Regions from separate parts of the Homo sapiens genome. Here region 1 is linked to region 2. Evidence: fine-mapped expression QTL. A gene starts in region 2. The other region holds a variant in brackets. All regions are shown on one strand. Distances are between the middles of the regions.

The links. PIP is the estimated chance that this variant, and not a neighbour inherited with it, causes the effect.
Region 1: its variant is fine-mapped to the expression of CELA1 in lung (TOPMed, PIP 0.95).

What each region holds. Positions count from the first base shown.
Region 1 is chr12:51,321,266-51,334,120 of GRCh38, reverse strand. BIN2 (bridging integrator 2) reads left to right here and starts at 9,947. Exons shown (of 13, transcript NM_016293.4): 1 at 9,947-10,099. The coding sequence starts at 10,019. It overlaps CELA1 (chymotrypsin like elastase 1), which reads left to right. Exons shown (of 8, transcript NM_001971.6): 7 at 4,288-4,437; 8 at 5,527-5,679. The coding sequence ends at 5,544. It overlaps LOC105369767 (a long non-coding RNA gene), which reads left to right and starts at 10,113. Exons shown (of 2, transcript XR_944957.3): 1 at 10,113-10,393; 2 at 10,918-11,753. RefSeq lists silencers at 6,722-7,016, 9,712-10,201 and an enhancer at 10,232-10,421. The variant G/C (reference allele first, on the strand shown) is at 7,916.
Region 2 is chr12:51,335,817-51,351,785 of GRCh38, reverse strand. CELA1 (chymotrypsin like elastase 1) reads left to right here and starts at 5,107. Exons shown (of 8, transcript NM_001971.6): 1 at 5,107-5,163; 2 at 5,909-5,991; 3 at 7,933-8,033; 4 at 9,086-9,211; 5 at 10,406-10,542; 6 at 11,781-11,926. The coding sequence starts at 5,148. GALNT6 (polypeptide N-acetylgalactosaminyltransferase 6) reads left to right here. Exons shown (of 12, transcript NM_007210.4): 12 at 1-534.

The DNA of each region.
Region 1 (12,855 bases), 16 kb after region 2:
CAGAGGCAATTGTGTCCCCAGGTCCCTCCCCACTGGAGTTTCTCAAATAGTGTGTCTTCTGGGCTTTCACAGTTCTGGGTCTCCAACCCTTCTCCTCAGAATGGATTCACTTAGAACCTCCCATTTCAATCAACCCATCCCCACTGATTTCTTTTCCAACTCTTCCTTCTGCTCTAAAATCCTCAGCCACACCCTCCCTCTCTCCTGAGGCTTGGTCTCTTTTCGGGTCAATTAGCACAAGACAATAGTATTATATACAATTCATTTATCTATCATTCCTCTAGCCCCTGAAATACTCTCAAATCCCTGATAGAATTTTGGTGGAAGAGATTGTTTTGTTTTGAGTACAATAATCTAAAGAAAACATCGTTTCCTAAATAGCAGTTAGGGTGGAGTACAGGTAGTTCCACTTTAAAGTAATTACCCTTGACTGGGCGTGGTGGCTCATGCCTATAATCCCAGCACTTTGGGAGGCTGAGGTGGGAGGATCACTTAAACTCAGGAGTTAGAGATTAGCCTCAGCAACATAGGGAGACCCTGTCTCTGCAAAAATTTAAAAAATTAGCCGGGCGAGGTGGCGCACACTGTGGTCCCAGCTACTTGGAATACTGAAGTGGGAGGACTGCTTGAGCCCAGGAGATTGGGACTGTGGTGAGCTATGATCATACCACTGCACTCCAGCCTGGGCAGAGGCTCTGTCTTAAAAAAAAAAAAACAAAAAAAAAACAGTCGGGCTCAGTGGCTCATGTCTGTAATCCCAGCACTTTGGGAGGCCACAGTGGGTGGATCACCTGAGGTCAGGAGTTCAAGACCAGCCTGACCAACATAGTGAAACTCCATCTCTACTAAAAATGCAAAATTAGCCAGGTGTGGTGGTTTATGCCTGTAATCCCAGCTACTTGGGAGGCTGAGGCAGGAGAACTGCTTGAACCTAGGAGGCGGAAGTGGCAGTGAGCTGAGATCATGCCATTACACTCCAGCCTGGGCAACAAGAGCGAAACTCAGTCTCAAAAAAAAAAAAAAATTAACGGGGAGTGGGGCTACACATCTATACTCCCAGCTACTCAGGCGGCTGAGGCAGGAGAATCACCTGAACCTGGGAGGTGGTGGTTGCAGTGAGCCGAAATGGCACTACTGCACTCCAGCCTGGACGACAGAGCGAGACTCCATCTCAAAACAAACACACACAGAATTATCCCAGTTTGAAATTTTGGTCTCTTTCCCTAGTTTTTTTTAAGTTTTACTTTTGTTTGTTTGTTTTTGAGACAGAGTCTTGCTCTGTTGCCCAGGCTGGAGTACGGTAGCGTGATCTCAGCTCACTGCAACCTCCTCCTCCTGGGTTCTTGTGCCTCAGCCTCCTCAGTAGCTGGGATGACAGGCATGAGCCACCATACCTGGCTAATTTTTTTTGTATTTTTAGTAGAGTCGGGGTTTCGCTATGTTGGCCAGGCTGGTCTCAAACTCCTGGCGTCACGTGATCCACCCACCTCGGCTTCCCAAAGTGCTGGGATTACAGGTGTAAGCCACCACACCTGGCCCCAAGTTTTACTTTTTATTGAAGCTTAAATTGGCAAATAAGATTATGGGGCTCAATAATGGAAAAGAATAGCTACTCTAGTTCTCCCACCCCATGGGAGGCCACTTTCAACTCTTCAGCTGATTCTTTTGGTGTCTACATCTTTAAAATTATATACTTACACTGCTATTTTTGTGTTGACATTATGGCAGATGTGATTCTCTTTATTTTTTATATATACATACCTGCCCTCCAAGCATGACATTTTCTGATCACCATCTCAACCTCTCAAAATATTTTGGTTAGATCAACATTCGGCATTTACTATGATTATATAAAATGCTATTTACAACAAAATCATGTAATATATTCTAGGTTTACTTTTCATTTGCTGCATAACTTTTTTTTTTTTTTTTTAAAGAGACAGGATCTTACTCTGTCACCCAGGCTGGAGTGCAGTAGCACAATCACAGCTCACTGCAGCCTTGAATTTCTGGGCTCAAGAAATCCTCCCACCTCAATCTCCTGAGTAGCCAGGACTACAGGCACATGCCACCACACTCAGCTGATTTTTTAAAATTTTAATAGAGATGGGGGTCTCGGTTTGTACCCCAGGCTGGTCTCAAACTCCTGGCTTTAGCTTAAGCAGTCCTCCTGCCTCAGCCTCCCAAAGTGCTGGGATTACAGTCATAAACCACCAAGGTCAGCCCTTGCTGCACAACTTTTTCAATTTTTTCAATGTCTGTTAAAAATTGTCTTTTTCATTTGCTTAATATAGTCAGTTTTTCATTAATTCAACCCCACACACTCCACTAATTTGTTAAGTGACCTATATCATCTTCTCTTGACCTAGTGGTCTATGTGGATCTATTTGCATTCGTTGTGAGGGATACTTAATGGGTGGGTTTTCCCGGAAACTCCAGACCTTTGATCCAGAAAATGTTGTTTATTTGTTGATTTCCTCCCACTCTATTTTCACTTTTCTCTTTCTAGAATTTCTGTTATTCACATGTTTGCCTCCTAAGCTGGTCCTCTTGTTTTCTCTATATCTTGTTTGTTCTATCTTATGTTCCAACTCTTCCAGTCTCTCATTTCTAAATCTATCAAATCTGTAATTTCCAAAGGCTCTTTTTGCTGTCTGAATGTTGTTTAGTAGTATGCCGTTCTTGTATCATGGATGCATATTAGTCATGTTTTTTGTTTGTGTGTTTGTTTTGAGACGGAGTCTCGCTCTGTCGCCCAGGCTGAAGTGCAGTGGTGCAATCTCAGCTCACTACAACCTCCAGCTCCTGGGTTCAAGCGATTCTCCTGCCTCAGCCTCCTGAGTAACTGGGATTACAGGCATGTACCACCACGCCCGGCTAATTTTTGTATTTTTAATAGAGTTTTAGGGGTTTCACTGTGTTGGCCTAGTCTTGAACTCCTGACCTCAGGTGATCCGCCCGCCTCAGCCTCCCAAAGTGCTGGGATTACAGGTGTGGAGCCACCATGCCCAGCCTATTAGTTATGGTTTTATTGCTTGTTTTCTTCTCCCTGCATAGTCTTGGTTGCCTTCATTTTTTTATTTAGCTCCTTGTTTCTTTGTTTCAATCTTTATTTTTATATTAGATGAATTCCTTTTTTTTTTTTTTTTTTGAGACAGAGTCTCACTCTGTCGCCCAGGCTGGAGCCCAGTGGCGCCATCTTGGCTCACTGCAAGCTCTGCCTCCCGGGTTCACGCCATTCTCCTGCCTCAGCCTCCCGAGTAGCTGGGACTACAGGCGCCCACCACCACGCCCGGCTAATTTTTTGTATTTTTAGTAGAGATGGGGTTTCACCGTGTTAGCCAGGATGGTCTCGATCTCCTGACCTCGTGATCCGCCCGCCTCAGCCTCCCAAAGTGCTGGGATTACAGGCATGAGTCACTGGGCCCGGCTAGAGGCATTCTTTAGATGTTTAGTGATCCTTAACCATCTGCTTTTATTTCAGAGTGGGGGTGGTATTTTTACCCAGAGTGGGTGGGCTGATTGGTAGCTCTGAGCCTTAGATGGGGTTCATCAATAGTGGATTCTCTGTCAGGTGATCTGGCTAGGCCATTTTAGTGGAGGACCTCCAATGTCAGTATCTTTAGGTCTTTCCTCTTGGACTGTTCAGTTTTTCCAGAGAAGTATCTTCCCATTTTATGTGTGGCATTATGGACCTGGCATTCTAGAAGCTGAGTAAGAAGGGAGGCAAGATCATATTCCATAAACCCAGGTTCCCAGTTGAGCATGTGACCTAATACATCACTTTCCTCTTCATTCCAGTTTAGTTTAGCATGTTTTGACTACCAAGTCTAAATACTTGGTCTAATTATACCCATTGGTCTAAATGCTGGGGATAAAGAAATTATTAGAATGCCCTATTTTTGCCACCCCAGGTTCAATTTAAGCCAATAAAAGCGATTGAACTTTAGATATTTAAAGTTCTATGCTAGCATTGTGGAGAGGAAAGATCTTGGTAAGAGTTTTTGTCTCAGGAAGCTCATAGACATGTGTGAGGAGGTACAAACAAATTATGAAACCAAAATACAAGGCAGAACATGAAATAAGTGCAGCAAAAGAGAAGAAGTATTGTGGTTGTTTAGAAAGGAAGAAGAGATTCATTTTGATTGTGGGGACATGAAGGAGGTGGAGATTTGCATTGGAGCTTTAAAACCGTACAGAATTTCACAACCAGAGACGGGGGCGGGGGGAGTGCAAGCAAAAGCCCGAAGATCTGGAGTTTTAGGATTCTGTTTCTCCTCCCTGCAGGGTGACTCTGGGGGCCCCCTCCATTGCTTGGTGAATGGCAAGTATTCTGTCCATGGAGTGACCAGCTTTGTGTCCAGCCGGGGCTGTAATGTCTCCAGGAAGCCTACAGTCTTCACCCAGGTCTCTGCTTACATCTCCTGGATAAATAATGTGAGTCCTCTCAAATGATGGGTTGAAATGGGGTCACCTGGAGACCTACGCACTGGCTGGGTTGGGGAACAAACGTTGGATGGACTGGGCAAGCCGTCATCTTCCTTACCACATTCATGTGTTTACTCCCTTCCCTTCCTTCCACGGTGTACTTTCCTTCAATAAGGCTGCCATCCTGAATTCCCTCCCCTCCACATACCCACAGAGCAGACTTCACTGTATTGTTTATTGCTTAGGGTAAGACAGTGGCAACATCAAATCTGAATCAGGGACATATCAGTGCCTTCCTAAGTCAAAGCCCAGGGAAAAACAGGTTCAGAAAGGCCTGCGTACTCCTAGGCAAGGGAAGGAGGCACCGACTTCCTCTCCCACAACGTCTTTCTAAGGACATTATGATAATTTGCTCTAACTTTTTTTTTTTTTTTTTTTTGAGACAGAGTCTCACTGTGTCACCCAGGCTGGAGTGCAGTGGCTTGATCTCGACTCACTGCAGCCTCTGCCTCCTGGGTTCAAGTGATTCTCCTGCTTCAGCCTCCCAAGTAGTTGGGATTATAGGCATGCACCACCAAACCTGGTAAATTTTTTTTGTATTTTTAGTAGAGATCGGGTTTCACCATGTTGGTCAGGCTGGTCTTGAACTCCTGACCTCAAGTGATCCACCTGCCACCCAAAGTGCTGGGATTACAGGCATGAGCCACAGCGCCCGGCCTGCTCTAATTTTTGACAGGTTTTACCACCTTAAATAATGCTTGAGAGTTAGGTGAGGCTCTGCCTACACTGACCTGGTGGAAAGGCCACACAACACATTTCACTGTGCCCTCCACCCTTCAAACACATTCTGGAGCCTTGTGTATTAATCTTGGCTCACGGCCATTTCAAGGTCTGTCTTTGCCACTGTATTCTGGGTATGTACCTATAACACTGAGCTGTCCTATCACAGTTGAGGCTGACTTCCTGCCTCCCTGTCCCCACACCCTGTCAACTTCCCATAAACCCAGTACAAAACCATACTTAACTGGGAGCCCTGAGGAAACAAGAAAGGAGGTAGGCAGGAGTTACTGACTGTGGACATAACTGTCTTTCCTTCAGGTCATCGCCTCCAACTGAACATTTTCCTGAGTCCAACGACCTTCCCAAAATGGTTCTTAGATCTGCAGTAGGACTTGCGATCAAAAAGTAAAACACATTCTGAAAGACTATTGAGCCATTGATAGAAAAGCAAATAAAACTAGATATACATTATCATACTGTGTCTATTTGTAATTAAGCCCTCCAGAGCAGGGGTCCCTATGCCTGATGATCTGTCACTGTCTCCCATCACCCCCAGACAGGACCGTCTAGTTGCAGGAAAACAAGCTCAGGGATCCCACTGATTCTACATTATGGTGAGTTGTATAATTAGTTCACTATATATTACAGTGTAATAATAATAGAAATGTAGTACACAATAAATGTAATGCCCTTGAATCATCTCGAAACCATCCCCCACCCCGGTTCGTGGAAAATTGTCTTCCACGAAACGGGTCCCTGGTGCCAAAAAGGTTGGGGACCACTGATTTAGAAGAAATGCAGTTATAGGATCCAAGTTGGATTTCACCACATCTGCAGGCTGGGTCTTCCCTTTGCTGCTACCTCTACCAGTCCACAACACAAACCCAGTGGGAGTAGCTTTATGTTATCCATTTTGGGTTACTTTAGGATCTATGTATCCACTAATCTGTCCATCTGCCCTATTCCTGTGGATATTTGCTATATTCGAAGGCACAGAGCTACTTGGGAGGCTGAGGCAGGAGAATCGCTTGAACCCGGGAGGTGGAGGTTGCAATGAGCCAAGATTGCACCGTTGCACTCCATCCTGGGCAACAAGAGCGAAAGACCATCTCAAAAAAAAAAAAAAAAAAAAAAGGTTCCCGAGTGGGCTGGGTACGGTGGCTCACGCCTGTAATCCCAGCACTTTGGGAGGCCGAGGTGGGTGGATAACGAGGTCAGGAATTCGAGACTAGCCTGGCCAAGATGGTGAATCCTCGTGTCTACTAAAAATACAAAAATTAGCTGGGCACAGTGGCAGGCGCCTGGAATCCCAGCTACTCAAGAGGCTGAGGCAGGAAAACTACTTGAACCCAGGAGGTGGAGGTTGCAGTGAGCTGAGATCGTGCCACTGCACTCTAGCCTGGGCAACAAAGCAAGACTCCGTCTCAAAACAAACAAACAAAAAACTTCCTGAGTGACTGAATGTGCCCTGTCTTTCCCAGGTATACTGTGGGTTCATCCTTCTTTTGTTTCCCCCTTTAGTGCCTAAAACGAACGCCCACTCCAAGTTTCTGGGTGATGGCAACTACTAGGATACACCAGAGATAGAAGTATAAGATTAGGAGGCAGGGCAGATACCAGCAGACTAAGAAAGTGACAAATTAGAAAGGAGACTGGAGAAAATCGCTTGGGCCTGGGAGGTGGAGGCCGCAGTGAGCCAAGATTGCGCCACTGCATTCCAGCCTGGGCAATGAAGTGAGATTCTGTCTCAAAAAAAAAAAAAAACAACAATGGAGACTGGAGAGCTAAGAATAGAAAAAAGGAGAGAAGAGAAGATACTAAACAAAGAAACGAAAGGGTTGAGGGGAAGAGGCAGAACAGAAAGGAAGAGGCAACAACAACATAGGGCCTCAAGCTAAGTGTGAATCAGCACTTTAAGGCTGGGACTAAAATTAGGCAACCGGATCCAGGGTTCTATAAACCACAGAGAACTGGGAAACTGATAATTCTGCTGTATCCTGGCCAGGGCTCAGTCTGTTAGAGTGGCCTATGAGAAAGCAAAGGGGGAACTGAAAGGGGAAGGCTAAAAAGGATGAGAAGCAGCTTTTCATGTCAATCACTTAAGACCAGACAAGAGGGACTAGGGTATTAAACATTACAGAAGGAGAAACTGGCTGAGACAGACCCTGGAATTGACAGGCTCAGCAGAGGCCTCTAGAACACTCCATGTGCTATAAGAGGCTGAGTCTGTTCCCATCCCAGTTCCACCACTGAGGAGCTGGGTGGCTGTGGTCAAGTCATCAGCCCTTTCTGTGACTCAATTTCCCTATCTAATTAACTTCTAAGGGTTGTTTCTTCTCTAACACTACATGATTTGGTGACCATCAATTTCAGTTTGCAAGATATTGGCACTAAACAGAGTTTCTTAGGAGACAGTGGCTGGGTTGCATTGCTGAGGATGCCATGTAGTCCTGGCAGGGACACAGGTACTGGCCTCCTTCTGCCAGTGACACACCTGTTAGCATTGCCATCTACTCTCAGTGTTCCCGCAGTACTGCTATTCTCCATGCTTCTCCCCACTTCTCCCCATCCAATATCAAGTCCTTCTATTTTCATCACCCTGCCTCTTCCAGGGCATCACCAAAGCTAACATCCAGAATAAACCCTAATCGCCTGGCAGGGCAAGGTGGTTCACACCTGTAATCCCAGCCCTTTGGGAGGCTGAGGC[G/C]GGTGGATTGCTTGAGCTCAAGAGTTCCAGATCAGCCTGGGTAGCCAGGAGTGGTGGCATGCACGCACCTTAGTCCCAGCTACTCAGGAGGCTGAGGTGAGACCATCACTTGGGCCTGGGAGGTAGAGGCTGCAGTGAGCCCTGATGGCACTGCTGCACTCCAGCCTGGCAACAAAGCAAGACCCTGTCTCCAAACAAACAAACAAACAAACAAACCCTAATCACCTATTCCCAGAAAATTTTGTATCCATCTCTACAAATAAATTAAGCACATTACATTAGAATCACCTGATTACCCACCTATCTCCACTTCCAGACTTTAAGCATCTTTATTTATGTACTTATTTATTAATACTTATTCTTTATTGGTTGAGAAAGGGCCTCACGCTTTGCCCAGGCTGGAATGCAGTGGCACCATCAGGGCTCACTGCAGCCTCCACCTCCCTTGGCTCGGGTGATCCTCCCACCTCAGCCTCCCTGATAGCTGGGACTACAGGTGTGTGCCACCACGCCCAATTAATTTTTGTATTTTTAGCAGAGAGAAGGTCTTGCTATGTTGCGCAGGCTAGTCTCAAACTCCTGGGCTCAAGCAATCTGCCTGCCTCAGCCTCCTAAAGTGTTGGGATTACAGGTGTGAGCCGTGGTGCCCGGCCAGACTTCATTAAGCATCTTAAGGTCAGGGACTGCATTTTATTCATCCTTGTTTCAGAACACCCAGCAATGCCTGGTACACAGTTGACCTTGAGTGCAGTAATGATTGTTTTGGAGAAAGAAGAGGAACACAGTAGCATACAAGGGCCTCTAATTTTGTGTCAGGCCCTATCTTCCCCCTCCACTCCTTAGGAAGTGTTATTTTGACCTTCTTCCCTGCCTTGAGGAAATTTTAACCTGCACTGTAAAATCTGAGTACGTGGTTCCTCCACACCTAGTGTCCTAATCTCAAGCTATCCCCTCAAACAGGTCAGGGAGGAATTTTTTGGAGAACTTCTCCCTAAAGAAACAATAGTTGTCATCTCAACAGCCGCACCCCAATTTGCACAATCTGTGTCTGTGTTCACATTCTGCCTCCATCCAGTACACTGTACTCCAACTAGAAAAACTTGCTCCTCATGCTCAGCACGGGCGTCCATACTATCCTCCTCAGCCTTTTTTCAATGTGATCATTCTCTTGCCTAAGAACCAGCCCCCTACCCTGTTTCTATCTCCAGCTTAGTTGTTCCTCATTTATTTATTTATTTATTTATTTATTTATTTATTTATTTGAGACGAACTGTCGCTCTGTCGCCCAGGCTGGAATGCAGTGGCGCGATTTCGGCTCACTGCAACCTCTGCCTCCCGGGTTCAAACAATTCTCCTGCGTCATCCTCTCGAGTAGCTGGGACTGCAGGCGTGCGCCACCACACCCAGCTAATTTTTGTATTTTTAGTAGCGACGCGGTTTCACCGTATTGGTCAGGCTGATCTCCTAACCTCAGGCGATCCACCCGCCTCGGCCTCCCAAAGTGCTAGGATTACAGGCGTGAGCCACCGCGCCCGGCCTGTTTCTCTCTTTCAAGCCCGGCTCGGGTGTCCTGCCTGCTTTCTGCACTCTATCCCTACCAGTTCCAGGCTTAGAGCCTACCTGGAGCAAGAAACGCAGTGTACATGGCGGCTTCGCATGCATACTCAGAGAACCTAAACGTGTTTTCGATATGGTAGGTCCTCTCGCTGAGTGGAACCCACATCATTTTCTACCCTGCGGTGGCAGTTGCTTTGCAGTGCTCAGCGTGATGGGAACTGGCTTTCCGGAGCGAGTGAGTGTGGGCCCACCACTGAGGACCTGGTTCAGTGAGGCCGAGGTTTCGGGCAGGGGTTGGAGCTCGGAAGCTGGCCTCGAGCGAGCGCTGCCTGAGGGTAGGCCCCGGGCCCGCCCCTCCGAGCCGGCCTGCTCCAGCTGACAGTGGTGGGCTGAGGGGCGGGCCTCAGGGCTGGCCAGGGGCGGCCTGAGGTGGCTCAGGGCTGGGGCCGGATGCGAGGCATGCCGGGAGCCCGCACTTCCTCCTCGGGGGCCTCAGAAAACCACAGGGCGCGGGGCCAGGGCGGCGGCCCCCAGGGAGTTGGCAGGATGGCAGAGGGCAAGGCAGGCGGCGCGGCCGGCCTCTTCGCCAAGCAGGTGCAGAAGAAGTTTAGCAGGGCCCAGGAGAAGGTAGGTGGCCGGGCCTCGCTGTCTGTCTGGCCCACAGGGAGCCGAGGCCGAGGCCGAGCCCGGCCGGGCAGGAGGGGCGGGCAGGGTGCTCAGGGGCCCCGAAGGGTCTGGGCTGACGAGAAGGGTCTCCCGCTCTCCCAGGGAAACGGGAGCGAGGAGTGGGCTTCCATGAAAACTGGCAGATTGGAGAGAGGTCGGAGACCGCCACCCGATCTTGGGCAAGGATAAGGGAAGCTGGGGAGACAACAGTCTCTGGGCAGAACCTTCGACAACCCTCAGGCTGACCCAGAAAAGGTGAAAGAAAGGAAGTGATGGTGGTGGCCACCTTTGTATCAAATTTTGTGCTAGCAATCCAAAATTGGTATTTTACAGATGATGAAATTGGAGGGTAATTTTCCATAGAGGGCAATTTCCCCAAAAACAGCGATGCAGCGGATGCCAGCAGGCACCCCCCACCAAAGGCTTAGAATAATCCTGCATAGTTCTCCCCCTACCTGACCCTGCCTGGCCTCTGGGTGGTGTTTCAGCTGACGTAAGCAGGAGCCCAAATCTGCTTCTTCTACCCTCCCTTTGGCGTTGGGGAGTACACCTCCCAGGGTGATGAACCACATCTGTGTTCAGAGTGTGTCCTTGGTTAGTGTCAGGTAGCCCTGCTCCAGCACTGGCACTTAGGTGGGCTGCCCATCTATTACTTGCTTGGCAATCTAAATTGTGGGGACATTCTCTACACATTTTGATGGCATTTTTGTTTCTACCTGTACAGAATATTTTCTTTGCTTCTAACCTGAGCCTCTGCTCTCCACCTACCAACCCTCTAGTAGACAAGGCGGTTTGGGAAGACATGTCAGCCAGAAGAAAGAGCGAGGGAAGAAAGACAAGAAGGACCTGAGATAGAGTTTCGGTTTTCCTTTTTTTCTCTCTCTCTTTATTAAGCCCAACCTGCCTTCTACAACGGAGAAGTTTTGGTTTTCTAAGAGCTGATGGACTTAGAAGCATTTGGATGAACAGCTCTGCTTACCAACTGAAATATCCCTATTATCTTCTAAAAGTGGAGCACTGCTTTGAGCCCTGGGAAGGCTTAAAGGCAACCAGCTCTCCCGAGTTGATTTATCAGCAGAAAACTGATGGAATGTAGATGTAGCTCCTGACTTTAAGAGACCACAATGGAAGGGAGGTTATTTTCTATCATTTGAGGTCATGTGAAAGAGAGGAGGAAAAGGGAAAGAGTTCGTGTAGCCAGACTTCGTTACTTCACTTACCCTAACTTCACCTTGATCCTAGTTTCAGCCTCTCTGAAGACTTACAAATCTGGTAGACCCGAGAGCAGGGCCTATGGGAAGGTCTAGCTCGAAACAGTGTGGGCGAGCAGGAGGTACTGGAGAGAAGGCCACACTGTGGTTGAAAAAAAAAAAAACCCTAAAAGACAAAACACTCATGAATGATAGTAATTTTAAAAAGACATACCAGCCAGGCACAGTGGCTCACTCCTGTAATCCCAGCACTTTGGGAGGCCAAGGTGGGAGGACTGCTTGAGCCCAGGAGATCAAGACTGCAGTGAGCAGTGATCACACCACACCACACTCAAGCAGAGGGAGACTCTGTCTCAAAAAATAAAAATAAATACATAAAAATAAAAGACATACAATTGATTGTATTTCACTCTTGCATCTTCTGTCTTCATCTAGCCTCTCGTCAACACTAAAACCTTGCTTTGGGCTTTCACTCCTTTGTAAGCATAGACTCCAAACCTTGGCTAAATAATGTCCTGCTCTGGGCTTCAGATCTTGCACCTGTAAAATGAGAGGGTTGATGTTCTTGATGAAACTCAATATGGTAAGAACACTAAATTGAAAAGCTGTCACATTAGACTCAGAGTCAAATACTTCCCAAAGACAGAACCAGTCTCTCAGGTTCTTCTGGCCTGAACCCTGAGGAAGTAGAGAAAGAGGAGCAAACTCAAATCTGCCATGAGGAATTCCCAGCTGATGAAGAAAACAAGATATTCTGAACCTAGACTAGACAAAAGGGTAGGCAAAGGTTGAACTTCGATAAGGTGGGAATGGCCTGGGATGCCGGAAGGGAGCTCAGCTCCGTCAGCCTGAAGCCAGTCCTTGAGTCTTGGGAAGTTATTGAGACCAAGATAAAGAGGGAGAAATTTGCACTAAAATGAAAGAATTCCTTGCAACACTTTTTGCTTTTTCTGCAAGCAGTTGGATGTAATCTTCTGAGTAATAAGTAATAGCTAATGTGTCAAATAGTGAAATGTGTCAAATATCAAGCGCCTATTATGGACCAGAGACAGGGATATAAGAAAGTGATTATCAGCGGGGTGCAGTGGCTCACGCCTGTAATCCCAGCACTTTGGGAGGCCCAGGCAGGTGGATCTCCTGAGGTCGGGAGTTCGAGACCAGCCTGACCAACATGGAGAAACCCCGTCTCTACTAAAAATACAAAATCAGCCGGGTGTGGTGGCGCATGCCTGTAATCCCAGCTACTCAGGAGGCTGAGGCAGGAGAATCGCTTGAACCTGGGAGGCGGAGGTTGCCGTGAGCCGAGATCGCGCCATTGCACTCCAACTTGTGCAACAAGAGCAAAACTCTGTCTCAAAAAAAAAAAAGACAAAGTGATTCTCTCTCCCTTTATGGAGCCAACATTCTACCGATGTCATCTCCCTTCATCTATTCAACACTTTAAGCAGGTTATTAGCATCTCTGTTTTAGAAATAAGGAAACAAGGCTCAAAAGAGATTGGTAGGT
Region 2 (15,969 bases):
TCTGTTACAGCCACTGTCTCATGTCCCCAAACATTCTCTGGCCCTAAATCTAGCTTATGTATTGTGTCAAGCACGTGGAGACGTGAGACGTCAAACGAGGTCCTGTCCCCGTGGAACTCACACGCTAAATGTAAGCAAATCATAGCAAGCCTGGAGATGCTCCAAGAGGTGCTGGATGAGTTAGAAGGAGCAATTCCTTCCACTTAGGGAATCAGATAAGGCCTCACAAAGATGGCAATGTTTGACCTAAGACCTCGGAAGATGAGTCCTCAGATGGGAAGGGCTCAATAAGCAGAGTTGTTACACAGGCAGCAGCCTGGCAGGAGCAAAGCCACAGAGGACATGTGGCCCCAGTGGGTCTGAGAAACCCAGAGGACATTGGGGTGAGGGAGTGACTGGTGTAGAAGCTGGAAGATCAGAGTTACATCATGAATTTCAGGGGCCCTAGGCACTTTAGCCTTCACGGAGCTCTTGCTCCATTCAAAAAAAAATTAATGTTATGACTATGTTGGTATAAAGATGAATGTAATCCAGGCTGATTGGATTTACTTTATTTCTTCTGGTTTTAAAAGAAGCTAAAACATTTCTATGGGCCCTGGGCACTGCACCTGCTGTGCCTACTGGGTAACTCAGCCCCGTACAAGAGTGGGTTGGGGCCCAGTTGAGAGAGGCTTTGGTAGGTCCGGTAAGCCACAGGGAGTCGTGGAGCCTAACCCTAGCCTTATTCTTGGTTGCATTAAATATCCAAACGTGGATCCCAGTATCCCTCATACTGTCTATGGTATCACCCAACAGCTCCCCAGCCTAATCATATGATGTAGCCCAACCAAGGTGCCCAGCTGTGTCAAGAAGGTTCCACCTGCCCCCAAATAGCATAGCACTTCCCAGGCACAGTCAGCCAAGAGCTACTCGCAGGGAGTGGGAGATGCAGCAGGAGGGAGACACAGGCTGTGTCTAGAGAGGAGGTCTGGGTTCAGGGATGAGGGGAGGACTAGGGAAGGGAGGTGGTGGAGAAGAGGGAGAAGGCACTGATGGGAGTGGTGGGAAGGCTCAAGAAACTAGCTTTGGCCAGGCACCAATGTCTGACAACTGTAATCCCAGCACTTTCAGAAGCCGAGGCGGGCAGATCACTTGAGGTCAGGAGTTCAAGACCAGCCTGGCCAACATGGCGAAACCCAGTCTGTACTAAAAATACAAAAGTTAGCCAGACGTGGTGGCAGGCGTCTGTAATCCCAGCTACTCGGGAGGCTGAGGCACAAGAATCGCTTGAGCCTGGGAGGCAGAGGTTGCAGTGAGCTGAGATTGTGTTTCAGCCTGGGTGACCGAGTGAGACTCTGTCTCAAAAAAACAAACAAACAAACAAGAAACTAGCTTCTTCATGGCATTTTCCTTAGTCAAGCCTGGCCTGGCCCTAACAACACCCGTATTCTTCCTTAAAACCCACCCCTCTGACCACTCTCAGCTAACCTAAGGCCCCTACCTCTTAAAACCCTGCTGCTAGCCCTGTGCTACTATCTCCCGGCTCTAGGAGTCTCTCACTCTAGCATTAAAGAGCTAGGCCTCTCTGGGGATCTGTTTCCCACATGAAGAGTACTGGGGCCATTGCCACAAATAGCTAGATGTCCCAGAATTTATTCTTATTTTTAATTACCAAAGTAATACTGTGCCAGCCTGGCCAACATATCGAAACCCCGTCTTTACTAAAAATACAAAAATTAGCTGGGCGTGGTGGTGGGCACCTGTAATCCCAGCTACTCGCAAGGTTGAGGCAGGAGAATCGCTTGAACCTGGGAGGTGGAGGTTGCAGTGAGCCAAGATTGTGCCACTGCACTTCAGCCTGGGCAACACAGAGAGACTCCATTTTGTTTTGTTTTGTTTTTTTTAAAGTAATATTGTGGAGAAAAGTCAAGTGATCTAGAAAAGTGAGGTTTAAAAAAGTGAAATTTGCTACTTGGGAGGCTCAGGTGGGAGGATTGCTGGAGCCCAGAAAGTCAAGGCTGCAGTAATTTGTGATCGTGCCACTGCACACCAGCCTGGGTGACAGAGAGAGACTCTGTTTCAAAAAAATAATAAAGCTATATAGTATTCCATAGCAGGGTTAAACCCAATTTATTCAGTCTTCCTCTACTGATGAATACTTAGCTTTTTTCCAATTTTGCAACAAGCTTTGTGACAAACTATACTGTAACCCACAACCTCGAACATTTATTTTTCTGCCTGTTTTTTTGTTTTGTTTTGTTTTGAGACTGGGTCTTGTTTTGTCACCCAGGCTGGAGTGCAGTGACACAATCATGGCTCACTGCAGCCTCGACCTCCCATGCTCAAGGGATCCTCCCACCTCAGCCTCCCAAGTAATGGGACTACAGGCATGCGCCACCATGTTTTTTTCATGTTTTGTAGAGACAAGGTCTCATTATGTTGCCCAGGCTGATACCAAACTTCTGGCCTCAAGCAGTCCTCCCGCCTTGGCTTCCCAAATTGCTGAGATTACAAACATGAGCCACCATGCCCGACCAGTGTTTATCTCAAAAGAATTCATTCCTAGAATTGGTATGCAATGTCAGAAGAAATGCAATGCCTCAAAATTTAAGTCATTGTCTGGCTGGGCGGGTGGCTCATGCCTGCAATCCCAGTACTTGGGGAGGCTGAGGTGGGTGAATCACTTGAGCTCAGGAGTTTGAGACTAGCTTGGGCAACATGGTGAAACCTCGTCTCTACAAAAAATACAAAAATTAGCTGGGCATGGTGGCTGGCACCTGTAGTCCCAGCTACTTGAGGGGCTGAGGTGGGAGGATCGCTTGAGCCCAGAAGATGGAGGTTGCAGTGAGTTGAGATCATGCCACTGCACTCTAGCATGGGCAACAGAATGAGACCCTGTCTTAAAAAAAGAAAAAATTTAAGCCATTGTCTATGCCTAACCCTAAGAGTAAGATTTTTTTTTTTTTTTTTTTGAGATGGAGTCTTGCTCTGTTGCCCAGGCTGGAGTGCAGTGGCACAATCTCGGCTCACTGCAACCTCCACCTCCAGGGTTCAAGCAACTCTCCCTGCCACAGCTTCCCAAGGAGCTGGGATTACAGCTCCCAAGCACAGGGACTACACCACAACGCCTGGCTAATTTTTGTATTTTCAGTAGAGACGGGATTTCACCATGTTGGCCAGGCTGGTCTGGAACTCCTGACCTCAGGTGATCTGGCCCTGCTGTGATGTAAAGAGGTAACCTTCAGGAGGCCCTCAAGCCTCCTCTTGGACTCCTCATCCTGGGGCTAGAGGCCAGAGGAAGCAGGGAAGCGGGAGGAGAATGACCAAAGAGGCCCCGGGTTCCCTAGCGCAGCTCACCCCTCTTCCCTGAGTGTGCCAGAATGCTGGAGGGCAGGCTGGAGAGCAAGCTCTTCAGGTTATCTGAGCATCAAAGTGCAACTCCTCTGAACAGCTCTAGACACTGAAAAAGTGACTGTGCAGATTCCTTCAAAGAGCATTTTCCAGGTTTCTCCCACCCCTGCAGCCATGAAGCTTGGATTCTGGAGTGTTTAGGCAACAAAAGCCCTGGGTGGGCAGGTGATGGTCCTGCTTCTGTCTAGGTTCCTGGCTTCTCCCTGCCTAATTCCAAACCCCATGCGTTGCTACCATGACTGCTGCACCCACAGTCCTCTGCTCTGGAGCCTGCAGTGGCTCTGATCATTTTGTGGCCAACCCAAGGGTCCTCTGCCCACCTCAAGGCACATTGCAACTCTTTTCTCTCTCTATTTATTTATTTATTTATTTATTTATTTATTTATTTATTTATTTATTTTGAGACAGAGTCTTGCTCTGTCTCCAGGCTGGAGTGCAGCAACCTCCGCTTCCCAGGTTGAAGCGATTCTCCTGCCTCAGCCTCCAGATTAGCTGGGACTGCAGAAGCGCACCACCATGCCCAGCTAATTTTTGTATTTTGTTTTTGTTTTTTTTTAGATGGAGTCTCGCTCTGTCGCCCAGGTTGGAGTGCAGTGGCGCGATCTCGGCTCACTGCAAGCTCCGCCTCCCGGGCTCACGCCATTCTCCTGCCTGCGCCTCCCGAGGAGCTGGGACTACAGGCGCCTGCCACCACGCCCAGCTAATTTTTTGTATTTTTTTAGTAGAGACGGGGTTTCACTGTGTTAGCCAGAGTAGTCTCAATCTCCTGACCTCGTGATCCGCCCGCCTCCGACTCCCAAAGTGCTGGGATTACAGGCATGAGCCACCGCGCCCGGCCAATTTTTGTATTTTTAGTAGACGGGGTTTCGCCATGTTGGCCAGGATGGTCTCGATCTCTTGATCTTGTGATCCGCCCGCCTCAGCCTCCCAAAGTGCTGGGATTACAGGCGTAAACCACCGCGCCCGGCCGCAACTCCCTTCTCTCTCCTCTACGAACTGTGATGAACAAAGCCTTTCATCTCCTGCAGGAACCTCGGCTCCTACCCTCGTTCTCCCTCTGCCCTCCACCCTCCATCTACCCTCATAGCCCTCAGACTGTCTTCACATCCCAAGGATCCCCTCCTCTACCCTGCCTCATATTCTCCTCTGGGAGCCCCTTCTTGGCTCTCCATCTGAGAGGGCCCAAGCCTGTTTCTCAGTACTTTCCTCCCCCAGAATTATCTCCACTGCATCTATTTGGCTTTTGTGTCTGCATTTACACCTATGCCTGCATCCTGGGGGCATGTGCCATCTCCCTCTTTGGGCAGAGAGAGTTGCTGTGTCTTCCTTGCCCTTGCTAACCACTCCCCCCTCTTCCACTATCCCCCTGGCCTCCAGCTGCTAGTGCACAGGGCAAGTCTCTGCATTTATGGTGCCACTGAGGACAACGAGAGAGTGATGGATGACAAGGGGTGCTCCCTTAGAGAAAAACCAGCCCTGGTTCTCCATCTTATTTCTGAAAAAGAGTTTGTTGGATGCTTTTCAATTAAAAGCAGATGATTAATTCAGCCCTGGCCTTGTTCTGTCTTTGAATAACAGATACATTAGTTTACTTGAAAAGAAATATTTTCATTTGTATTTCCATGTCACTTGTGATTTTCCCTGCCTTGCACCCTCAGCCCTGCCAGTTGGCAAGAAGACAGTCAGCTTTGCTGCTAAGAGGAGTATAAAGAGGGCTTGGTCCAAGCAAGAAGGCAGTGGTCTACTCCATCGGCAACATGCTGGTCCTTTATGGTAAGTGGATATGGTCCAGTCGCAACCCTGGTCCTTTATGGTAAGTGGATCATGTGGCCTGAGGTCTATAGGGAGGGGGACTTGGGCAGGAAGGTCAGCAAATTTTCCCTAAGTCCAGGCCAGCACCCTGTCCCAGGGCAGGTGGGACGCTCTGCCTGCAGAGCGTCCTTTACTCTCCTGGAGGCCAAGATAGAAAAGGTCAGGGCCACTGGCTATTCAGGCCCCTCTGGGTGGCAGGTCCCTGGGCCACAAAGCAGAGAGAAGCCCCATCTGGTAGTGGGGTGGGTCCCTGGGCTTCCCCACCACCCCCATTGACAGGAGGACTTCCTCAGCAGGTGCCTGGCTGGGGTGTGCACTGCAGGCCCTGAACCCTGGAGAATCTTGCCAAAGCATTAGGGGGCTGGTGGGGGTCAAAGAGTGGGGGGGGGTCTCTTCAGGCCAAAGGGTGATCTTGAGCAAAGAGGAGACCACAAGGAGCCTCTGGGGCCTAGCCTGGTGGTTTGAGAGAGGTCCTTCATAGCATGCCGGAGTTCTGGGAACACCTGGGGGAAACAGAAGGCACCCAGGCACCCCTGTTTTCAAAAGGGGCTCAGAGAACTCACAGCTGGGCCCCTCATTCGTTAGAGAGGAACTGTGAATTTGCAGACAAGGCTAACATTCCTCAAAGCACAATCGCCACCCCCCACCCCTACCCCTGGCTGACCCCATGCTTAGTCATCACTCACTTTTCTTCTGCCCCACAAAGGACACAGCACCCAGGACCTTCCGGAAACCAATGCCCGCGTAGTCGGAGGGACTGAGGCCGGGAGGAATTCCTGGCCCTCTCAGGTGGGTGTTCCTTCCCAGCCCCAGACTTCCACCCAAATAAGAGCTCAGTGCATGACATAAGGTATCATGTGTATTTGTGCATGTCCCTATCAACAAGCAGCTCTCCAATTGTCTAGGTTCTCGATTTTAAAGATGGATGGGATCAGGCTTAGGTGGTTTTCTAAATGCAAAAGGCTTGGAGGAGGGGATTTATACACCAACCACAGTCCCTCTTCAAGGCACACACCCAAACACAAGATACATTTATATTCTCAGCGACAGCACTTGTGCCACGCAAGAAAGACTGGGTGCCAGACAGTCACCTTGGACTCCACATACCTTGAAACTCACACGCACACCACTCCACACTGTGTGTGTCACAATGCTTGCACGCATGTGCGCGCACACACACACACACACACGTACAGCATGCTGCTTAGTTGGCTATTTAGAGTTTCCACTTTGCTAACAGGGCAGCTGGGCCCTGATTTAAGTGATCTAAATATGTAAACCTGGCAAATTAACTGATGAAGATCCACACTTTGAGAAGATATCACTGCAATCAGAGTTTTAGCTTATAAAAGTCTGAGCCCCAGTTTTCAGGAGTAGAGCTATTACATAACATGAGGTGCTAGAAGAAGAGACATGAACTGATAAAAACAAACATCCTATTGGTATTTTTTTTTTTTTGAGATGGAGTTTTGCTCTCATTGCCCAGGCTAGAGTGCAATGGCATGATCTCGGCTCACTGCAAACTCTGCCTCCTGGGTTCAAGCAGTTCTCCTGCGTCAGCCTCCTGAGTAGCTGGGATTACAGGCGCCTGTCACCATGCCCAGCTAATTTTTGTATTTTTAGTAGAGACGGGGTTTCACCATGTTGGCCAGGCTGGTCTCAAACTCCTGACCTCAGGTGATCCACCCGCCTCAGCCTCCCAAAGTGCTGGGATTACAGGCATGAGCCACAGCGCCTGGCCTCCCATTGGTATTTCTAAGTAGTCCCTGAAGTGGGGAGACAGGAGATGTCTTGAAAACACTAAAGGTACAGCTCTGGAGACCTAAGCCTGTTGGGCTTAGGTGATGGAGCAAATCTTTGCCTATAGTTCCTCTTTTTTGGGGGAGGAGAGGGGGCGATGGAGTCTCGCTCTGTCACCAGGCTGCAGTGCAGTGACGCTATCTCAGCTCACTGTAACCTCCACCTCCTGGGTTCAAGCAATTCTCCTGCCTCAGCCTCCTGAGTAGCTGGGACTACAGGTGCATGCCACCACGCCCGACTAATTTTTGCATTTTTAGTAGAGATGGGGTTTCACCATGTTGGCCAGGATGGTCTTGATCTCCTGACCTGGTGATCCACCCGCCTTGGCCTCCCAATGTGCTAGGATCACAGGCGTGAGCCATGGTGCCTGGCCTATAGTTCCTCTTTAAGGGAGAACAGAGGTAGAAGGAGTTCCAAAAAAGGAGTTACAATGGGTTCTAGGTCCATTGCAACAACCTAGAGAGATAATGCCAAATACACTGTGTGCCTTTACTCCTCCATCCATGTACACAGCAAACATCACCAAGCGATGGAGCATCCCTTCCTGCTGGCCCCAGAAGCATCTACACACCCCTTATCAATGCCACACTCCAGGTGGCCACTACCAAGCAATCAGTAGCAATTGGCAGGTCAGATGAAACCTATTTGCCATCTCTAGCCTAGAAAGAGAATGTTTTGAAGGACAGCAGGACTTTAAGGAGGTGACATGTAGTTTGAGGCAAAGTCTTTTATATTTAATTATTTTTGACGTTGTAGAGGCGAGGTCTCACTATGTTGCCCAGGCTGGTCTCCAGCTCCTAGGCTCAACTGATCCTCCTGCCTCAGCCTTCCAAAGTTCTGGGATTACTGGCATGAGCCACTGCAACCGACCTGGGGCAAAACCATTTGAGAAACACCAACCTATCCCTTCTTTCTTTCCTCCCCATCTAGATTTCCCTCCAGTACCGGTCTGGAGGTTCCCGGTATCACACCTGTGGAGGGACCCTTATCAGACAGAACTGGGTGATGACAGCTGCTCACTGCGTGGATTAGTAAGAAAAACAAAGACAAGCTTTCCTGGGCCCCTGGAAGGGGAAGGGGCTGACCTTCTGAAAGAGGATATAATTTTGCCCTCTCTGGACAGCACTTCAGGGACTGGGCAGTGGCTCCTTTCCTGTTCAGGGCCTGCAGGGAGGTAGTATGGTGAAAGTACAAACTTTGGAGTCAGGGAGACTCAAATTCAAATCTTGCTCCACCAAATTCTAGCTATGTAGCCTTGGGCAACTATGCCCCCATTCTCCTATCTCTAAAGTGGGCTAAGAACATTTACTTTGTAGAAATGTTGTGAGGATTGAGTAAATATGTAAGTGCCTAGTCAATGTCTGACTGGTGACTATTTTTTCCTATTTGTCTTGGGCAATGGTTTTCACATTTGAGCATGTGTCAGAATCACCTGGAAGGCACAGATTGCTGGGCCCCATCCAGCAGAGTTTCTAATTTGGTAGGTCCAGGGTGAGGCCTGATAATTTGCATTTCTAACAAGTTTCCAGGTGATGCTCATGCTGCGGCCCAGGAACCACGCTTTAAGAACAACTAGCCTAAAAGTCTATGCTTCCTTCAAAATCTTGGTGGCTGAGAGCCATTATTTCATTTATGCGCACTACACCTCTCCCAGTTTACAAGATATTCAGCCTATGATGTTAAACCGAGAAAATCAAAGTGATGGTAGTTTTTTTCACTTCCACAAGTTAGTCAATTAGGGAATGAAAGAGCTTGTTACTTTCTCATTTTGGAGAGTCTTATATCCCTCCTCTGCCTAGACCAGATAAGATGGGTTCCTGTCCTAAAATAATAAACAAAACCTGGGCACGGTGGCTCACACCTGTAGTCCCAGCTACTAGGGAAGCTGCGGTGGGAGGATCACTTGAGCCTGGGAGTTTGAAGCCAGCCTGGGCAACACAGCAAAACCCCATCTCTAAAAAAAAAAAAAAATTTCCTAAATAATAATGATTAAAAAAAAAGATGGTTTTTCAACTTTTCTCTAAGTGGGGTAGAGAAGGTTTGAGTCCCCTGGATGACTCAGGGATTCCTTCTCTCACGCCAGCCAGAAGACTTTCCGCGTGGTGGCTGGAGACCATAACCTGAGCCAGAATGATGGCACTGAGCAGTACGTGAGTGTGCAGAAGATCGTGGTGCATCCATACTGGAACAGCGATAACGTGGCTGCCGGGTAGGAGCAAGTCCAAGCTGGCCCTGGGCTGGGCGGTGAGGCCTGACTAGCCAACAACTGGCTGCCTTCACCTGTTCTTTCAGAGGGCTAGAGGGATTGCATGGCCTGAAACCTGGTCCGTGGCTCCTGGCCTGGCCTTTAGTTAAGGAGCCCAGCTGAGCCTGAGAGAAGGCACCATGTCCTAGAGGGAGCAATGAGCTGGCTCATTCGTCCAGGAGGACTTTGAGAATTTAGGTTCTGAGCCAGGCACAGTGGCTCATGCCTATAATCCCAACACTTTGGGAAGCCAAGGCAGGCGGATCACCTGAGGTCAGGAGTTTGAGACCAGCCTGACCAATATGGTGAAACCCTGTCTGTACTAAAAATACAAAAAAAAAAAAATTAGCCAGGCATGGTGGCATGTGCCTGTAATCGCTTGATTACAGGAGAATCACTTGAACCCAGGAGGAAGAGGGTGCAGTGAGCTGAGATCGCGCCACTGCACTCCAGCCTGGGTGACAGAGTGAGACTCTGTCTCATAAGAAAAAGAGAACTGACGTTCTGGAGGGCTTGAGAGTCTTTGAAGACCTTTAGGATTTGTTGGATCCAGGCTGGTTTGCACAGTGGATTACCATTCTCTGCAGATTTTAATGTTCTGTTTCTATGGGGGGTTTTATCATTATTTATTATTCACATTATAGAATAGACTCCATCAGCAAAAGTAAATTTCCTAAAGTGAATCTTACACGGGAAAATTGCAAGTTGAGTTGTAAACTTCTGGAAAATAAATAATTAAAACGGTGGTCAATTCTATAGCATGTGCAGGTGGGGGTGGGTTCAAGGAATTGGGATATTCTACTGAGCTTGTAGAGCCACTCAGCCTTTTACATTTTTCTTGTTTGAGAACTCTGCCACCAAGATCATGCCACTCTGCTCCTTTCAGATTCCCCCATTCTCTACTTCCCGGGGTTGCAAAGGTCAGAGCTAGGCTGCAATACCAATGTCCCACCAGCAGATGCTGCTGTTAAACATAGAATGTTTACATGTTAAATTGTAATTGCTCTAGTTTGAGGCTTAGCAAGTGAGCCCCGTCCTTCTTCAAAGTCGTCACTTTCCAATTCCACGGGGATACAAATGCTTAGAGAGGGCCAGTGTATATGCTGACCTCAGGGAAGAGCTGATCCCATGAGTGAGCAGTCTCCTTTTCTCCTGCAGCTATGACATCGCCCTGCTGCGCCTGGCCCAGAGCGTTACCCTCAATAGCTATGTCCAGCTGGGTGTTCTGCCCCAGGAGGGAGCCATCCTGGCTAACAACAGTCCCTGCTACATCACAGGCTGGGGCAAGACCAAGAGTAAGTTGCCTACATTGGCACAATCCACCACGGGGATCTTGATTAGGTAGCTGAGCTTCTAAGACACCTTTTTCTGTGGTCCTAGGTGCTTATGGCCAGAGACCAGGAGCTAAAAGAACCATAGATACAATAACTGATGCATTATATCAAGCTAAGAATGGGCTGTGAAGTAGTTGACAGATTCATGGACTCTTAGAACAAAAAAAGACTTTATCAGAGAATTTTTTTTACCAGCCCCTCATTTTTAAAATTTATTTATTTATTTAGAGACAGGGTTTTGCTCTGTCACCCAGGCTGCAACCTCCACTTCCTGGGCTCAAGTGATCCTCCCACCTCAGCCTCCTGAGTAGCTGAGACTATAGGCATGTACCACCACACTCAGCTAATTTTTAAATTTTTTTGTAGAGATGGGATCTCGCTATATTGCCTAGGCTGGCCTCGAACTCCTGAGCTTAAGAAATCCTCCCACCTTGGCCTCCCAAAGTGCTGGGATTACAGGCATGTGCCACTGCAGCCAGCCAGCCCTTCATTTTATACATGAGGAAACCAAGGTCCAGAGAAATTAAGGATCCTTAGCTGAGTGTGGTGGCATGAGTCTGTAGTCCCAGGTACTCAGGAGGCTGAGGAAGGAGGATCGCTTAAGCCTGACCAACATGGAGAAACCCCATCTCTACTAAAAATACAAAATTAGCCAGGCATGGTGGTGCATGCCTTTAATCCCAGCTACTCGGCAGGCTGAGGCAGGAGAATCTCTTGAACCTGGGAGGCGGAGGTTGTGGTGAGCCGAGATTGCTCCATTGCACTCCAGCCTGGGCAACAAGAGTGAAACTCCATCTCAAAAAAAAAAAAAAAAAAGAAAGAAAGAAATGGAAACAAGCATGCACAATCCCATTTCTGCTCCATGGAGCTTGCAGGAGCAAACAGAACAGACAGATAAATCATCCACAAATAAGGCCATTCCATGGTGCAACTAAGTTATCCACGAGTGAAAAGAAGCAGGAGTAGGGTTGGTGGCTTGGAGCCTAGGTACAGTAAGCAAGGCTGCCTCCCTGAGGGAAGGGTCCTGTGCGGCCATATAAAGAGAGAAGACAGAGGATCCACCACATGCAACAGGGAGAGAGAAGGAGTTTGCCCTGAGCTCAGCTTTCACGAGAGTTTGGGAAGGTGTGGCAGGGGTGGAAGGTTTTTCTGCTGGACCACATCTGGAGCTGACTGCCAATGCCGTGTGTCCTGTTCAGCCAATGGGCAGCTGGCCCAGACCCTGCAGCAGGCTTACCTGCCCTCTGTGGACTACGCCATCTGCTCCAGCTCCTCCTACTGGGGCTCCACTGTGAAGAACACCATGGTGTGTGCTGGTGGAGATGGAGTTCGCTCTGGATGCCAGGTGAACATTTGCAGGGGGTCCCACCCCAGGTCCCGCCACTCTCTGCCTATCCCTCCACCCCTCTTCCTCACCTCCCTATTCGACACTTACTCTTAGTCCTACACAGACTCAATTTTCTACTCTGGCGTCTAAGTGAGAATGATCCTGTGCTGGTAATTCTACACATGCAGAAACTCAAAGTTGAAAGGAACCTTAAAATTGATCTTGCTCGATGCCCTCACTTCAAAGTTTGTACGTGGCCCAACATTTATATGTTGTTGTTGGTATATGTGTGTGTTCTTAGAATTTGTTACCTAGATTTTTTTTTTGAGATGGAGTTTTGCTCTTGTTGCCCAGACTGGAGTGCAATGGGACGATCTCGGCTCACTGCAACCTCCGCCTCTGGGTTCAAGCAATTCTCCTGCCTCAGCCTCCCAAGTAGCTGGGATTACAGGCATGCACCACCACGCCCGGCTAATTTTTTGTATTTTTAGTAGAGACAGGGTTTCTCCATGTTGCTCAGGCTGATCTCGAACTCCCGACCTCAGGTGATCCACCCGCCTTGGCCTCCCAAAGTGCTGGGACTACAGGCGTGAGCCACCATGCCCAGCCAAATTTGTTACCTAGATTTTTTAATGGCAGCGATGCAGCTGAGCCTGGACAGGTGGTTGTGATGCTGTATAAGCAGTACCCTGCTCCCTCTTACCTATCAGTCCTACTTCTCTTGCAGTTCCTCTACCACCATCCCTTTACCCCAGTGATATTTCTGGCAGTATGTACAGGTGAGTTTGATAGGGGAAAGTGCACAAAATAATTTTATAATAGCTTATATATAACAAATATAACCTTCCTCTATTTTGACAAGATCAATCAGCCATAAACTATCTTACAGATTTCTCTTTTTAAGCTTTTTTTATTATTATTATTTTAATATAGAGATGGGGTCTTGCTTTGTGGCCCAGGCTGGTCTCAGACTCCAGGGCTCAAGTGATCCTCCCACATTGGCCTCCCAAAGTGCTGGGAATACAGGCGTGAGCCACCATGCCCCACCCCAGATTTCTTAATGCAGTTTAACAACTATTCATTATATATCTACTATATGCCAGGCATTGTGCTAAGTGCTAAGGTTACAAAGATGGATCAAACAGTGTCAAGTAAAGAAACCAGAGGCACAGACATACAATAGAACATTGTAATACAATGTGGTTAAGTGTTAATAATCAGGATGTGCACAGGTGATATGGAAGCCCAAGGGTAGGTACCTACCTCTACCTACTGGGGCCAGAAAAGACTTTCCTTCCCCAAGAAACTAGAATTTGTAGTGGGTCCTGAGGGGCAAATAGGAATAGGCCAGGCAAAAAGGAGAAAAGACATTCAGAGGGAGGGAACGGCATGAATAAAGGCAGGGGGCCAAGAAACAACCTAGAGTACATACAGAATTATGGGGCATTCCCTAAGGCTAGAGTAGAGCAGCGGCTGGAGGTCCACAAGCCGAATCTAGCTCACTGCTTGTTTTATATGGCCCATGAGCTTAGAACAGTTATTACATTTTGATTTCTATATATATATATATATATGTATGCGTATGTGTATGTGTGTGTGTGTGTGTGTGTGTGTGTGTGTGTATGTTTTTTTTTTTTCCTGAGATGGAGTCTCACTCTGTCGCCCAGACTGGAGTGCAGTGGCGCAATCTCAGCTCACTGAAACCTCTGCCTCCCGGGTTCAAGCAATTCTTCTGCCTCAGCCTCCCGAGTAGCTGGGATTACAGGCACGCACCACCACATCTGCTAATTTTTGTATTTTTAGTAGAGACAGGATTTCACCATGTTTGCAAGGCTGGTCTCGAACTGGCTGGTCTCGGACTCCTGACCTCGTGATCCACCTGCCTCTGCCTCCCAAAGTGCTGGGATTACAGGCATGAGCCACCGCGCCTGGCCATATACATATATATATATATTTGTTTTTTTTTTGAGACAGCGTCTCACTCTGTTGCCCAGGCTGGAGTTCAGTTGTACCATCATGGTTCACTTGTAACCTCTGCCTCCCAGGCTCAAGTGATTTTCCCACCTCAGCCTCCCTAGTAGCTGGGACTACAGGCACATACCACCATACCCAGCTAATTTTTTGTATTTTTTGTAGAGACAGGGTTTCACCATGTTGCCCAGGCTGGAATTATTACATTTATTAATGGTAAGGAAAAAAAATCAGAATAATAATATGTCATGACACATGAAGAATATATAAAATTTCAGTGCCCATAAATAACATTTCACTGGAACACAGTCACAGTTGCTCATTTACAAACTGTTTATGGCTGCTTTTTTTTTTTTTTTTTTTTTTTGAAGAGATAAGGTCTTGCTCTGTCACTCAGGCTGGAGTGCAGTGGTGCCATCTTGGCTCACTGCAGCCTCAACTTCCTGGGCTCAAATGATCCTCCCACCTCAGCCTCCCAAGTAGCTAGGATCACAGGCACATGCCATCACACCCAGCTAATTTTGTTTTGTTTTTGGTAGTGACAAGGTTTCACTATGATGCCCAGGCTGGTCTTGAACTCCTGGCCTCAAGCAATCCTCCTGCCTTGGCCTCCTGGAGTGCTGGGATTATAGGCGTGAGGCACCATGCCCAGCCTATGGCTGCTTTTGTAGTACAACACAAAGTAGTTGCAATCAAGACGGTATGGCCTGCAAAGCCTGAAATATGTACTGTTTGGCCCTTAACAGAAGAGGTTTGCTGACCCGTGGGCTAGAATAGAAGCTACCACCATACTAGGAAATGTCAGGAGGTAAGACTAGAGAGGCAAGCAAGAGCTGTACAACTCAGGGCTTCAAATGCCAGGCTTGGGGACATGAACCTTATCTCTTGGGCATTGGGAAGCCATCAAAGACTTCTAAACAGGAGACTAGCACAACCAGATTCACCTTTTAGAATTGTTCTTTAGGCATGTTTTTGAAGAAGACAAGAGAGGCAGGGAGATTGCCTAGAGGGCTATTGCAATGATCTAAGCAAGAAATTTGAGGGCCTGAATTAAGGCAGTGGTGATAGGAACCGGAGGAGGGAAGGAGGAGGATCTGGAACAACAGCCAAGCATCTGGTTTAAGTGATTTGGGGGAGGGCACTGTTGCCCTGAGACAAGATTTACAGAGTTTGAGAGAGAAGATGATGAGTTTGGTTCTGGACAACCTTTGTCTGAGATCCCAGTGGGACATTCAGGTATAGCAACCAGTAAGAAATTTGGTGTTTTTTTTGTTTTGTTTGAGACGGAGTCTCCCTCTCTCACCCAGGCTGGAGTGCAGTAGCGCGATCTCAGCTCACTGCCCCCTCTGTCTCACGGGCTCAAGTGATTCTACTACCTCAGGTTCCTAAGTAGCCGGGATTACAGGCATGTGCCACAACACCTGGCTAATTTTTGTATTTTTAGTAGAGACGGGGTTTCCCCATGTTGGCCAGGCTAAGTCTCGAACTCCTGACCTCAGCCTCCCAAAGTGCTGGGATTACAGGCATGAGCCACCACGCCTGGCCAAGAAATTAGATAGAAAAAGTGGGGCCTGGGGGAAGAGCTGGGCTAGAGATACCTACTGAGAACAAATCAGATCCCATTCCAGGGAAAAACTGTTCAATGAGAAAAGAGCAGTGGGTTGGGAAAGAACTGTCAGAACATAAATACTTGAGTGTTTCAGGGATAAGTGGAGGATAAAGAAACCACTAGGATCTAAGAAAGGAGAAGTAGATGTAAGATAAAAACCTGGTAATAAGGATATTATGAAATCTCAGGAAGTACTTACAGATATCACATAATATACAATTCACCCAGAAGCCACAGTAGGTAAGAGCTGAAAGTGGCCACTTTGGCAATTGTAACCTTGGCAAGAGCAGTTTCAGTGGAGTGGTGAGGGCAGAAGCTTGTCCGAAGGGTAAGAAATAAAGAGGCAATAAGACATATAACCAGCCGGGTGTAGTAGCTCATGCCTGTAATCCCAAGATTTTGGCAGATTGAGGCAGGAGGATCGCTTGAGCCCAGGAGTTAGAGACCAGCCTGGGAAATGTAGGGAGACTTCATCTCTATG